Regions from separate parts of the Homo sapiens genome. Here region 1 is linked to region 2. Evidence: fine-mapped expression QTL. Tissue or cell type: cerebellar hemisphere. Region 2 holds a variant in brackets; the other region holds the start of a gene. All regions are shown on one strand. Distances are from middle to middle.

What was found. PIP is the estimated chance that this variant, and not a neighbour inherited with it, causes the effect.
Region 1: NRIP3 starts here. The variant in region 2 is fine-mapped to the expression of NRIP3 in cerebellar hemisphere (GTEx, PIP 0.99).

The regions. Positions count from the first base shown.
Region 1 is chr11:8,999,756-9,007,452 of GRCh38, forward strand. It overlaps NRIP3 (nuclear receptor interacting protein 3), which reads right to left and starts at 4,246. Exons shown (of 7, transcript NM_020645.3): 1 at 4,007-4,246. The coding sequence starts at 4,180. NRIP3-DT (NRIP3 divergent transcript) reads left to right here and starts at 4,333. Exons shown (of 3, transcript NR_183663.1): 1 at 4,333-4,788. RefSeq lists an enhancer at 3,423-4,342.
Region 2 is chr11:8,964,447-8,971,571 of GRCh38, forward strand. It overlaps TMEM9B-AS1 (TMEM9B antisense RNA 1), which reads left to right and starts at 229. Exons shown (of 5, transcript NR_073431.1): 1 at 229-702; 2 at 1,458-1,598; 3 at 2,095-2,210; 4 at 3,393-3,595. It also overlaps a transcript of TMEM9B not described here. RefSeq lists a silencer at 1-189. The variant C/T (reference allele first, on the strand shown) is at 1,933.

The DNA.
Region 1 (7,697 bases), 36 kb after region 2:
TAGAACACTCTTCCCTGAGAAACTTTGCTCCTTAATTCCCTTCAGTATCTCCTCAAATGTAATCTTATCAGATAGGCCTTGCCGGACAACCCTGTACAAAATAGCCAGACTCCACCCCACCCCAGTCACTGCCTTCCCTATTCCCCTTACCCTGATTTATTTTCTCCATAGAAAATATTTATTATTATTACCTTATATACATTTACTTAATTTTACTTTCTGCCTCCTTCCTCCCACAAGAATGAAAGTTCCGTCAAGGCAGGAACTCAGTTTTGGTTCACTATTATATCTCCAAAGCTTAAATTATTGCATGACATGTGTAGTAGGTACTCAATAAATATTTGTATATTAAATTAACTGATCTGTCCTTCCCTGCCCCCAACCTATAAACCTGTTTATAATGAGAAACTTTTCTGTCTTCCTATTTGTGTCTTAGCCCCTAGACTGTGTCCTGAACACAGCAAGTATTCAAATAATGTTTGCTATTACGAGGATGCAATCACGACTCTGCAAATCTTCAGTTTGTGCCAGATCTTGGTGTTATACTGGTATTTCACGCTTCTCTTCTAAGCCTCTGAAATTCTCCAGCCCATGATTTGTGGTGATATGGATAGCTAATCTATAGGGCACACCACACAGACCTGCTCTAATAGACAGAGATTCTGTTCAGGTATTTTATGGTAAGTTTGCTTTACTGTGTTCAACCATCTTTCCCCCAGCATCATTCCTAATTCTAGTCAGTTTTGAAAAAGCATTTAGCTATGATCAGAAGCAATCATATGTAGGAAAGAAAAACTCTATTGCCAGACAAGTAAGAATATGGCCTAATGCCTACAGGTAAGTATAATATCATTTAGGAAAGACAGCATATTACCACATAACATGACTGTTTTTAAAAATTAAAAAGTCCTTAGCACAATGAGAAAAACTTTTATGAACCTGGTAGCTAAAACAAGATAAATTACAATAGGCAAATTTCCAAGAACGGAGATGTTTTTCTCCAGCTTCACTGAGTTAAAAAAAAAAATCAGGGCTGGGTGTGGTAGCTCATGTTTGTAATCCCAGCACTTTGGGAGGCTAAAGTGGGCAGATCGCTTGAGACCAGGAGTTCAAGACCAGCCTGGGCAATATGGCAAAATCCCATCTCTACAAAAAATACAAAAGTTAGATTGGTGTTGTGGTGTGCACCTGTAATCCTAGCTACTCAGGAGGTTGAGGTGGGAGGATCTCTTGAGCCTGCGAGGTCGAGGCTGCAGTAAGATGTGACTGCAGCTGCATTCCAGCCTGGGCAATAGAGTGAGAACCCGTCTCTTAAAAAAAAAATCAAATATAATATTACTCACTCATATCTCTGGTTTTAGTTCTTAATCTAATACAGAATGAACAATACAAGATAAAAGGATAAAAGCAAAAGGGGCAGACAAAAATATAATTTCCACAGAAGACTTTGTATCAGCCAACTCCAGATACACAGGAATAGGCAAAGGCACTTTCCTGGGGCCAAGAGAACATGACCCCCTTTGATTTCCTATGGTTGCCTTCTGCCAGTCCTAAAAGAGCTGGCAGGCTGGTATCAAGCAGTGAACATTACAGAAACAGCATAGTAAGAGGTAGATAATTCAGAAATCCCAGCGGTATATTCAAATATAGGTTGCTGGTATGAGGAAAAACAACCTACAATCTTCACAAACCCAAAAGTCAATAACAACTAATTTCTCCTCTCTCTTCCTTATCTCCCTCTGATGCTATCCTCTCCCTTTTCTTGGACTCCTTCTATCGAGATTATACTATAAACTACTCCAAGTAAGAACTATTCAATTAATTTTAACATCCTCCAAATTTCCCTTGCAGTGAGAGAAAATTGAGTCAACACTGGTCTATCCCACATGTATTTATAAAGTAAAAGAATAATAATGTACTTCTAAGGTCACTTCTAAGATTGTACTAAGGCTGCAACAACAGTTCCAAGAGAGTTTAAGCATGCTGCCTCACCCCAGCGCTTGCGGCTCTCCTAGCCCTACCTCGGTCTGCCTTGGTTTCTGTAACCTGGCTGTTCTGTGCAATCACTTGTACATTATAGGTGTGAAAACAGTGAGAGAGGGAAATCAACTCCATGACGGTGGGGCACAGAAAGCGTGAACCATGATTCAGAGCCTTACAGTCAACTGTCATGTGTATGTGTCATACTCAAGGCAATATCCTGCTTCTTGAGGCTCCTTCCTCTTTGCAGCCTGCTGCCTGTGCTGTATGCTATCAGCCCTTTGTGACTCAACTGAGACAGACTAGAGTCAGAAAAGCGGATGGAATTCTTACACAGCATGAAGTAGTATAAGAAATCCTAGGCAGAAGGAAGTTCAGGTAGCTCTCAGGGCTAGGAAACTCCTCGACAACGAGGGACAACCAAATCCAGCATTTAAAAACTCTGTATTTTAATTCTTCTCTTAATATAATACTTCCTTCTTTATTGATTGCTGAGCATTCTAGGAACTAGGATAGGATTATTTGGCCTGAAGGAAAGAATACTTCTCGAACCTGATTTGTTAAATGAATCGAGATTGCTTTAAAGTGAAAGAAGGGAAAAGAGAGTTATCTCTTTTGCAGGAGCACATTTCAATCACTTATCACTCTGGGTTAGCATAAATCAGATAAACTATCCTGTGGGTTGTGCAAAAAGCAAAACAAAACAAAAAAACACAACTTGTAAAAAAAACAGAGCAAGATAACTGAAGTAGACAAACTCTGCACAGAAGTAACTAATGGCAGGGAGGAGAAAAATTTTTGTATATTATATTATACTGTGTATAATATAATGTACCTGTGTATCATTAGAGCTGTTAAATTAAAAAAAAAAAAAAAAAAAAAAGGAAATGGATGCAGAAGCTCTGCCCTCCTGGGGCCAGAAATGGCAATTTCAGTGAACTAGGGCCGACAACCACATCCAAAATTAAATATTTCAAAAGCTTAAAATAAAAAATACTAGAAAAATTATGCAGAGCACCTATTTCATTTGTTAAAAGACATTTAATTAGTGTTTCACATATTACCACCCAAATGAATAAAGCGATTGTGAAATTCAAGAAAACAATCAAACTACAAGAAAACTCCAGATAAAACTACAAAGTTAAACATAAACTTGGCCCAGGACCACTACAGTGGCTGAGGGATGACAAATACAGTTCTTTATATTGGTAACCCTTAGCCATCCATCCCATTCTATAGAAAGAGGACAGTACCATCTTTGACCCCAGGCCCCCTGTCCTGAGGTGCTTCTACTTAATGCCAGGAACAACTGTGCTAGAAAAAAAGACTGCACCCACCCCAGCTCCAGATGCACACATTAGCTGGTCGGTGAGATGCAGCAGCCTGGCTTCCTCCCTCTACCCACTCCTTGGGGGCGGGGCTGGAAGAGGAGAATGATGAAGAGATGTTGGGGGTTCAGGAAACCTTCACATTTGGCCCCTTTTCTCTCTCCCCACTCAGGATGGAAGGTCAAAGTTAGGACCAAAACTAGAGAAGTGGGTTTTGCATAGGGGGACAATGGATTCAACAGAAGTCCTCTGGATCTGGCAACTGTCAAAAAACCCTCTTTCCACTTCTTTCCCCCTCACGGAAAGCCATTAGGAATCACCTCTGTCTGGGTCATAGGAACAGCCACACAGCATAGGAGGCACAAGCCCCGTGAACAAAATTCGGTATTAAGAATAAGGAAAAAGAAAGAAGACCCGAGGGCAAGAGGGCAGGGCAGGACCTCTTCTTTCTACTGGAGAAGAGACATCCAGGGAGGAGGCACAGCCGAGGGGAGCGCAAGCTAGAAAAGCTACGACGGAATCCCCACCGAAACCGCAGCAGGGGTACTGGAAGGGGAGGAATCCGCGACGCAGCGACCGCGAGCCAAGGGCAGCGGCGGGCCGGGCCGTGACTCAGTGAAAGCCGCAACGGCCGGGCCTCGGAAAACGGCGGGCGCGAAGCCGCCGGGGCCGGGGCGAGAACGGCGGCGGGGGCTCACCATGTCCTTGGACGAGCCCAGCTTCTTGAGGCCGTCCAGGGGCAGCAGGTCGGCGGAGTCCTTGTGGATGAACTGCACCGCCTGCTTCATCCGGCGCTGCTGTCGCAGTGACGCCGCCTCCCGCATGTCGGTCTCCTTGCGGCCGCCCTCAGTGAGGAGCCCTGAGTAAAACATCGCTGAGGCGCCGGCGGCCCGGTAGCCCACAGCCCCCCGGCAGCCTCAGCCTCGAGCTCCTCCAGCGCCGCAAGGGCCCCGAGCCGCGCCTTTTATAGCCGAGCGTGACGTCGCGGGGAGCAGCCAGTGCGCGCGCGGGGGGCGGGGCCGGCACAGAGTCCACGCCCCGCGCGGCTCCCTCGCGTCCCGCGTCCCGCGTCCCGCGTCCCCTGCTCACCCGGTGGCAAAGCCGGCGAGGAGGCGGCGGCGCTGGTGGGGACTGACCCGGCAGTCCGAGAATCCACCGCGGCCTTTTCACCCAACCGCCCCCTCCTGCGTGGGGGCCCCGCATCCCCTGGACTGGCGTGGGCTCTGGGGCCCGATGCCCTGGCAGCCCCGGCCATCTCTGCCGCTGGCCGCGGGTACCTGCTCACCTGTCCACGCCGTGGCCGACCCGGGGATCACCGACAGCCGGGCCATGCCTCGAGTCCCGCCGCCCGCGCCGCTGCTCGGCTTCTCAGAAACGCACCTCCACGCCGCCAGCCGGGGCTCCAGGGTCCACCGCCCGGGCCCGGAGGACTGGCGACTCCCTCCGAGGTTGGGAGCGCTCCGGATTTCTCCAACTTCAGGTCGGTCCCCACCCACCGGGCCACGTGACTGGGGAGGGGGCAGCCGGTGCAGGCGTGTGGAGGAGGCTTTCGGGACCTCCTCCCCCGGGCACCCTCTGCCTGCAGCCCGGCACCCGGCCCGCGTTTCCGAGCCGGGGGAGCAGGTGCAGTCGGAAGCCCGCGGGTGGGCGTGGGGCGGGGGAGTGGCGAGGGTCCCCCGCCTCCGCGGGAGCGCACGCGGCTGCGAGCCCTACACCTGCTCTCCGACCAAAGAAGCACCTGTTTTTCTCAATAAGTGCTAGGGCTTACCATCTAAAGGATCGTTCACCATCCCTCCAGCGTCCTTAGTAGGAGCGATTGGAACCCGTTTTTCTTCCTGAATAATCCATACTTTTAAGCCATTCTAATCGGGCCTTCAGGCATCCTGGATTCTGGTCTCGACATTGTGATTTGACACAAATCACGTTTTCACTCTGGAAACCACAACTACTCCCTCCACCCCATCACGCAGGAGCAGACCTGGATAAGAAATATGTGCACTCTGCAAAGAACCAATGATAAAAGTAACAATATCGACGCTTACTGAGCCTTTACTATGTGCCAGGTACTAGACTAGACACTTAAAATGCAGTATCTCATTGGATCCTGGCAACAGCTTGTAAGATAGTATTCTCATCACCCCCATTTTACAGGCAAATACCTGATACCTTCTGTCTGGCCTCCTGAATGCTCCTTGGTTCCATTCCAATACGTTGTTCACTGTGCTGCCAGAGTAATCTTCTCAAACGATAAGTGTGATCATCTCACTTCCCTGCTAAGAGCACCTCAAAAGGCTTCCTATTGCTCTTAGGAGAAACCCACATTCTTGCATGGTCTGCCTAGACCCTGCATATTCACTCTGTACTTCAGCCTCATGGGCCTTCTTCCAGTTCCTTCCAGTCACCTGTTGCCAAATGGCCTGCCTTTGACTGTCCTGTTCCCTCTGTGTGCAGTGCCCCCTCCTACCCTCTTCAGGAAACTCCTATGCTTCTTCCAGACCTCAGCTCCATTATCATTTCTTTAGGAAAGCCTTCTCTGACCTTCCAGAGAGAGTGAAGTCTCTCTAATTATATACTATCTATCTCTTGGGCATTTGACACTTTCTGTGGGGGTAGGGGTAGGGGGGTACTGGTTGTTGGATTAATATTTGTCTCCTCCACTGATTGGAACCTCCAGGAAGGTGACTGAACCCATTTTTTGCTTAGCATTGATGCCCTAATATGCAGAGGGTTCTCAAATACTAGTGAAAGGATGGCAAAAAGTTAAGGTCGTACCAAAGAAATCAAGTGGTAAAGCTGGCATTTACTCCCAGAACCTGTGCTGGACTACCTAGACCTGGAGAGACTGGGTTTGGCCTCATGAAGCTGCTTCTTTTACTCTGTTCTGCCTTCAACACTTGCCCCAGTTTCAAAGACTGTTTGTGGGAAAACAAATACAGAAGGCTGCTCACTTGGCTTCAAGGAAGCCCCAGGGCTGGATTCCTCCCTGTGTGCCCATCCCCTACTTTCCCCTACACACGGAGGACAGAGTCTCTAGGAGACAGGTGGGATTGCTGTTCACCTTCCAGTCCCCTGGCACACTTCCAGCAGTGAACAACAGTGGCTGCCCTGGCCCCTTCTGTCCCATCACCTGGATCCCTGCCTGATCACTCCTCCAGGTGCAGATCACCCAGGGAACAGTGAAAGTCAGCTTTGCCTTGTCCGTCTAGGAGAGGTGCCTCTGAGTTTGGCAAAGCATCAGGGCAGGTCCAACAGTGAGGGCCCCTAGGGCTTGGGCTGGGACAGTGACTTTCCTCAGGGAGGAAGCCAGGCAGGTAGACACTCTCGGGGGGAGTTGGAATCCCCACTCTCCAGGCTGCTCAGCTCAGACCTGCAGCCTTTTTTGCTGAGGATGTCCTGACAGAAGAAAGGGGCTCTTTTCAGAGCTAGATCCCCCTGGGAACACCAGGAAGCTGAATCTCTCTAGTTGAACTGGAATTTGCCCATATCAAGTGTTGCTGAAAAATAAATGGTGCCCGACTGGAACTGGGAATCTTTTTGTGAATTCAGAGCCCTTTGGTGTAGTGGGATTTGTGTTCTGCAGTTGGGTCTGTGGCTGCAATACCTGTTGGTCCCCTCACCTGTCTGAGACCTTCCTTGGACAGACTGATACCATCACTGCCCTCAAGGTTCAGTGTGGTGAGGCCAGCTCCTTCCTCCCCCCACACATTATGAGTATTCGCAGACTACAGACTGCCTGCTTAATTTAAGGAGAGTTATCTCTGGGTGGTTTATCCTGTTTGCCCAAATGACTTTGAGTAAATCACTTCCTACCTCTGAGCCTCAGTTTCCATATCTGTAAAATGGATGTAGTGAGACTGCATATACAATTGTGCTTTGTAAACTCTCTAGGGCTGTACCAACAGAAAAGATTATTATTAATTCTCCATATAGCCAATCAACGTCCCCTGCCTCATTGACCCATCTTGGAGGAAGTAACATACAATATGGTTGTTAAAAACACAGGTTTTGGAGTCTAATACACTAGATTTGAATCCCTGCTCTGCTGCTTACTAGCTATGTGACTAGTTAGTTACTGCACCATTGTGAGCTTTCAGTTCTTCATCTAGAAAATTGTGCCAATATCTCTACTTCTCAGGGCTGCTGTGAGAAATAAAACGATAGACAGTGTAATACATTGGTCATGTAGCATAGGCTCAGCAGAAGGTAGCAACCATCATTACCTGGAACAACTTCAGGAAAAACTGTAGGTTGCAGAACCCTCGAATTGGGGCTGGCCTATCCTTTCTCCAGGCTTCCCTACAGAGCTTCAGACATGAAGCCAGACTTGAGTATCTTACCCTATCCCTAGAGCAGAGGCCTGCTGAGGCAGGGGCTGGCCAGCTCTCTTCC
Region 2 (7,125 bases):
GCGAAGGCGTCACCGGGCGCGCCGGGTCAGATGCAAAAAGCATCCGCCCCGGAACCGGTTACCAGTGCGAAGGGCCGGGAGGCTGGGCAGTCCTGGTGCCCGCCTTGGCCTAGCCCCGGCCCCGGGACGGAAGGGGGCCTCTGGGGTGGCAGCCTGGGCCCAGTAGAGCTTTGCATCTCTTGGATATCTTTCCCGGGCGCAGAAGCTGCGGGGCTTAGGGAGTCGCCATTGCGCTGGAAAGTCCTCCCGCCCACGGAGACCCCAGCAAACTCCGAGTGTCACACAGTCGCCTCTGGCGACCCGTGCGGGCCGGAGCCGTTCGCGCACAGGCAGGGCGGGTGCTGAGCGTGGAAACGGGGCTGGAATTGGCCGAGCCATGCCTTTCCGGGATGCCCACCGCCAGTCAAAGGGTTGGGGGTGGTCTCTGCACCTTAAGTACTAACCTGCCGCCCACGCGCCTCCTGACCACAGCACCCCGTCGGCTTTCTAATTCTGTGAGCTGCCCTCGTGGGCGTGGCCTCCCTGTGGAGCTCCCCATGTGCCTCCCCTTGGTCCAGCCTGCAGCTAGGAAGTGGGTCACAGCGACGGGGCTGGGCTGGGCCAGGCCAGGCTCCGGGAGATGTGGAATTGGCGAAACAACTGCCCCAGTAGTATCCTCCGCCTAGGACTCCAAGAGGTGGCGAATTGGGGCACTACGCCCGGGTAAGGCAGTGCCTGTTCAGGGCTGCCGACCTGTCTCCCCAGGGCTGTCATTCTCAGCAAGTACTTTAGGAGTGCCTTAGATCGGCACATTCTCCCATTGAAATATTTTTGTTAGTGGAGACAAGGGAGGTAATGGCAAGGACACGGATCATCACAGCCCCTAGGGATTTGTTGAATGACCTTTGGCAAATCACTTCCCTTCTCTGGGCCTGTAGTTCTTGGCTGAATATGAGGGAATGGATTTCAAATTATGCTCCATGTAATACCCGTGTTTTTACCTCTGTAAACAGATTTTTTTGTTTTTTTTGAGACGGAGTCTCGTTCTGTCCCCCGGGCTGGAGTGCAGTGGCGCGATCTCGGCTCACTGCAACCTCCGCCTCCCGGGTTGACGCCATTCTCCTGCCTCAGCCTCCCTAGTAGGTGGGACTACAGGCGCCCGCCACCACGCCGCCCGGCTAATTTTTTTTTTCTTTTTCTTTTTCTTTTTTTTTTTTTGTATTTTTAGTACAGACAGGGTCTCACTGTGTTAGCCAGGATGGTCTCGATCTCCTGACCTTGTGATCCGCCCGCCTCGGCCTCCCAAATTGCTGGGATTATAGGCGTGAGCCACCGCGCCCGGCCCCAACAGATTTTTAAAGATGGTCTTTTCCCAATTTGTGGAAATGTTTTAACAGAATGCTCTCAATATTTTTCGCCCATGTGATTCTTAGATTCATGTGAATCTAACACAACGTATCTGATACTGTTCCCAACAGGAACCAGGGTGGCAGGGCTAGATGTCCTCTCACCAGACTGCCCAGTGAAGGTGCTGTCACTTTGATGAATTATCAAGGCTTTGTAGTGGGTCTTCTACTGGACAAAGGACAAACTGGAGACTCCCTGGATCAAATGTGTTGGTGAGGCACTGAATCTGATTGCTGAAAGGTGATTCAGCTGCAAGTTAGGCATCAGTTTAGGGTTTTCTAGGCTTGGCATCTAAAGGGAGTGCCTGCTGTAGCTGAAACCTCATAGGCCTTCTCTTCCTTCCGAATTGTTTTCAAGGCCTTGGGGGTACAGAGACTTAGAGAAAATACATAGTTGTGCCTCAGACTGATGGGCCTCATCTGTTTAATGGAGAAACACCAAGCACACTCAGTCTGGGCGGAATTTTAGAGCTCCATAGTATAACCACTATCTAGCTACATGTGGCAATTGAGCATTTGAAATGTGGCTAGACTGAATTGAAATGTG[C/T]TGTATAAAATATACACTTAATTTCAAAGACAATATTTTTAAAATGTAAAATATTTCAGTAATTTAAAAATATGGTTTAAATATTTTAGATATGTTGGGTTAAATAAAATATATTAGTAAAATATTTCACTTGTTTTTTGACCTCTTAAATGTGGCTGCTAGAAAATGTTATAGTGCTGTCAGGAAGTGCTGTTCTGGAATACAGAATGTGGCTGCCGTGAGTGGAGTGTGACTATGAGATAGTCGCCTGACTGGAGACAATGAAGCCTCAGGCCAAGGTAAGAGGGCTGACAAGGAAGAACTGGCACAACTAGAGCCGAATGTTTGGGGGAGGTATATGTCTGCCAAAAAATGAATATAATTTCAGGTGACTCAATAGAAGTGGAGGGATCAGTTTCTCTTGTTCTGCCCTGCTCTTATCTAGGTAACTCTTACTTTTCCTTTAGGTCAGGGTTCTTCTAAGCCAGAAAACCTTCACTGACTTAAGTGCACTCCTTTCTATGTTTGCATAGATCTCTTTCTTAACTTTACCCCATTATAGTAAAATTATGTTTTCACATTTGCCTTTATACCCAAACCTCCACCAAAATATTGTGAGCTCTCTGAGGGTAAGGACTTTGTCTTATTATTGTTATACCTGGAGACAGATTAAAACAATATGATGTTTGTGGGGACCAGGGAAAAGGGGAATGGGAGAGGCTCCTCTGGTTAGTCTAAAAGAAAAGTATCAGGCACCTACTTGAATCCTCATTTGATTTCTTTCTGACCATGAGAGGGGATGCTGAGATGCCCAAAGATGTGCAAATGGCGGGATCCGGCGCACCATAGTAGGCAGGGGAGTGAAGATTTCTCACCTCGGGTCTTCCTAGACCTTCAGGTCACACGGGAATTGTTCTGTTTATAGACGGCGCTGGCCTTAGTACTCACTCTCCCTCTATTTTCCTTGCTTCCTTATAACTAGGTTTCCCTACTCACTTCCTCAAAAAGAGTGATGTAGGTCCACGTGTACCCTCCCAACTGGCCTGGGTCCTCTCCCTTCTTTGTAAGGCCTGAAAAATTCCCTGGTGGGGGATGGTTAGAAAAGGAAGAGGAACCTTCTTTGTAAGTGTGCAAGTCAGAAGGGGAGGGAGAAAAGTGACAATTTATATATCTGGGACAAATATATCTTGGACCCAGGTTTTGCCACCTGTCTGCATCCCCCCATGCCCTTTCCCCTCCAGTGATCAAATAGCTCTCTGGATGCCCCTTAATTCTTCCACCCCATCCATTCTGATCTACCCAGCACTTGCCTAGGCAACACCAGTCCAGGAGAACAAATGGAGTTATGCACAACATTGGTGATTTCCTTGTATTGTGGCTCCAGTGGTTATGGCTGGGGACACACACATCCTTCCAGTTATTTCTGAGCATACTCTGGAAACGTCTTATGAGCCCTCTTCTTTATTGTGTGCACCCACTAGGATGCTCCCTCCTACTCAGCCCTGTTTAGTGGGATTTTTCAGCCCACTGTAAAGCCTACTGCTGCCTGTAAAGCCACCTAAGTGCATCACTTGCTGGTGTTCACCATGATAACAACAATTTATGGGGACAGAATATGTTTCTAGAGCTGCTGGTGCCACTGCTGATGTTACTGGGTTCCCTGAAATAAAACACCACAGTGCAGGTGAGTACCAAAGTGGGGAGAATTTTTAGTTCCTTTTAGAGGTGCTAAATCAATATTGTTGATTTCCCAGTACCTTAGAATATTTAATGAAAACAGGTCAGGTGCAGTGGCTCACGCCTGTAATCCCAGCACTTTGGGAGGCCAAGGCAGGTAGATCACTTGAGGTCAGGAGTTCAAGAACAGCCTGGCCAACATGGTGAAACCCCATCTCTACTAAAAATACAAAAATTAGCAGGGCGTGGTGGCAGGCACCTGTAATCCCAGCTACTCCGGAAGCTGAGGCACCAGAATCGCTTGAACTCAGGAGGCGGAGGTTGTAGTGAGTCGAGATCATGCCACTGCACTCCAGCCTGGGCGCATGGTGGCTCATGCCTATAATCCCAGCACTTTGGGAGGCTGAGGCAGTCAGATCACTTGAGGTCAGGAGTTCAAGAACAGCCTGACCAACATGGTGAAACCCCATCTCTACTAAAAATAGAAAAAGTTAGCCAGGCGTGGTGGCAGGCGCCTGTAATCCCAGCTACTCAGGAGGCTGAGGCATAAGAATCCTTGAACCCAGGAGGCGGAGGTTGCAGTGAGCTGAGATTGCACCATTGCACTCCAGCCTGGGCAACAATAGCGAAACTCCGTCTCAAAACAAACAAACAAACAAAACAAAAAAACTTAATGAATACAGTCCCTCCTAAGATTTTCAAATAAATGAAATACCACATTAATCATATTGTTTTATTTTTATCATTACATTAAAAATCAAATAGTATCACTAGGTTTATAATGAAAAACAGCAGACCCTGTCCCAGCCCTCCACACTCTCAGTTTCTACTCCCTAGATATAATCTCTATTCACCCAGCTACCTCTTCTGGTATTTATCTCCGTATTTCTAAATAGCATGCTTATACTACTAATTCTTAATTTTTCAGTTTGGGCCATTATTTTACTTTTTCTATAGGAAATAAGATATGTGTTTATACTCTGAAGACTGGTAATACACACATGTATTTCTCCATCTTCCATCCTTCAGTTTATCTATATCACCCTATATAGGTAGAGTACTATTCATTATACTATTATAAAGGTATGTAATTGATCCAGTTAGCATAATATGATTATATTTCCTTTATTTTGATTGAAGTTAACTATTGCCTCTTTCTCCATGCAACTTTCTTAAGTACCTAGCATTCAAGTGTCTATAATCAATTTATTCCAAACTGTCCTTTCAAAACATTGAAACACATCAAGTAGTCTATCAATCAGTTTATTTTTTAAATTGGAGACAACTCTCTAGGAGCCCATCATCCTCCTTCACTGTGGACTAGTTTTTCTCTAAGCCTACTGCACAGCTTTTGTCCTGAAATAATTTTATCCTTTCTACCCTGTTTTCCACTTCTTTTTGTTTTTCTGAAAGATTTCCACCTTCCAGCTTTTCTTTTGAATTTTAAAATTTCTGTTATGTTTTAAATTTGCCAGAATACTTTCTTGTCAACCTCTCTTTTAATTAAAAATATTTTTTATTTTTGTAATTTAAAGGTTTATTGTAAATTGACAAGTACAAATTGGATATATTTATGGGGTACAAAGTGATGTTATATGTATACAATGTGGAAAGATTAAATCAAGCTAATTAACATATCCATCACTACAAATACTTCTTTGTGGTGAGAATACTTGACATTTACCTTCAGCAATTTTGAAATATACAGTACATTATTATTAACCATGCTATACTCTTTATCTCAAAAAATGTATTCCCTTTATCTAACTGAAACTTCGTACTCTAACCAACATCTCCTTGTTTCCCCTACCACCCCTTCCCCCTACTCTCTGATAACCATCATTCTACTCTGATTCTGTGAGTTTGTTTTAGATTCTACATTAGGAATCATGTGACTTTGTCTGTCTGTGCCTGGCTTATTCCATTCAGCATAACGTCCTCCAGGGAAGCACTTTCTTGTCCACCCCCTTCCCCTTTTTAAATAGCAGTCTGTTCCATTTGGTGGATGCAGTATCTTATTACTCTAAGAATATTGCTAATGTTTTCTTTTGTTTCTTGAATTGTCTGTGTTGAATTTTTAAGGCTTGTTTCTGTTTTGTGTTGGAAGCTTTTCTTAAACGTCTAGAGATCCTTGGCCATCCATTCATATGTAAGAGTGGGGCACTAGAAAGCCAATAGAAAGTTCTGTGTACACTGGCCAGTGAGGTGGCTCACACCTGTAACCCCAGCACTTTGGAAGGCCAAGGCAGGCAGATCACTTGAGGTCAGGAGTTCAAGACCAGCCTTGCCAACATGGTGAAACCCCATCTCTACTAAAAATACAAAAATTAGCCGGGCTGGTGGCGCACGCCTGTAATCCTTGCTACTTGGGAGGCTGAGGCTTGAGAATCTCTTGAACCCGGGAGGCAGAGGTTGCAGTGAGCTCTCCAGCCTAGGCAACAGACCAAAACTCTGTCTCAAAAAAAAAAAAAGTTCTGTGTACATACTTAGGACTTGTAATTGGTAGGACATACTGCAGTATTTTTCAAACTTCTGGTCGCAAACCCATTAGTAGTTTGTGAAATCAATATAATCAGTTTTATTTCCCCCAAATGACAGAACAGAATAGAAAACACCACCTCAGAATACATCTACATAGAAAGAGAATTATTTTATGAAACTTTGGTTTCTTACACATATCATATATACATATTATGTACTGGTTTGATCCCATAAAATGGGAGTTTTTTTTTTTTATTGTGGGTGTTTCTTCAAAGAAATTTGAAAAAGTACAACTTAGGATAATCAAAGAGATCTCCAACTGTCAGGACAGGTAGGTCTTTTCTCTTAGAGAGGTTAAGTTCCGGCCCAGTGCGGTGGCTCATGCCTGTAATCCCAGCACTTTGGGAGGCTGAGGCGGGCAGATCATGAGGTCGGGAGATTGAGACCATCCTGGCTAACATGGTGAAACCTCATCTCTTCTAAGAATACAAAAAATAAGTCAGGCATGGTGGCACGCGCCTGTAATCCCAGCTACTCGGGAGGCTGAGGCAGGAGAATCATTTGAACTCGGGAGGCGGAGATTGCCACTGCACTCCAGCCTGGGCGACAGAGCAAGACTCCGTCTCAAAAAAAAAAAAAAAAAAACGGAGATAAGTTCTCCTGGAGTAAAATTCTCTAAACTTTTGCCTGCATGCTAGTCTGATAGACAGTACTCATTCATTCAGGTATTGGTTGAGGACTTACTATGTGCCAAACACTGTTCCAGGTTCTGGGTATACATCAGACAAAACTGTCTCCTGGGACTAGATTCTAGTGAGGGAGATAAACAGTGGGTTATATAGTATTTAGATCTTGCGCTAGGTAACACAGCAACAGAAGGGAAAGCTGAACATATGCATATAGATGCTGGTAAGAGGGTGGATGTGGTGGATGAATGAAGTAGAAAACAAGGTCATCATCTGAGAGTGAAAATGGGGAGGAAGTGTTGGAAGAAAAGAGAAGGTGTGAAATAATTTAGGACACAGCACAGCAAACTATAGCCTTTGGTCAAATCCT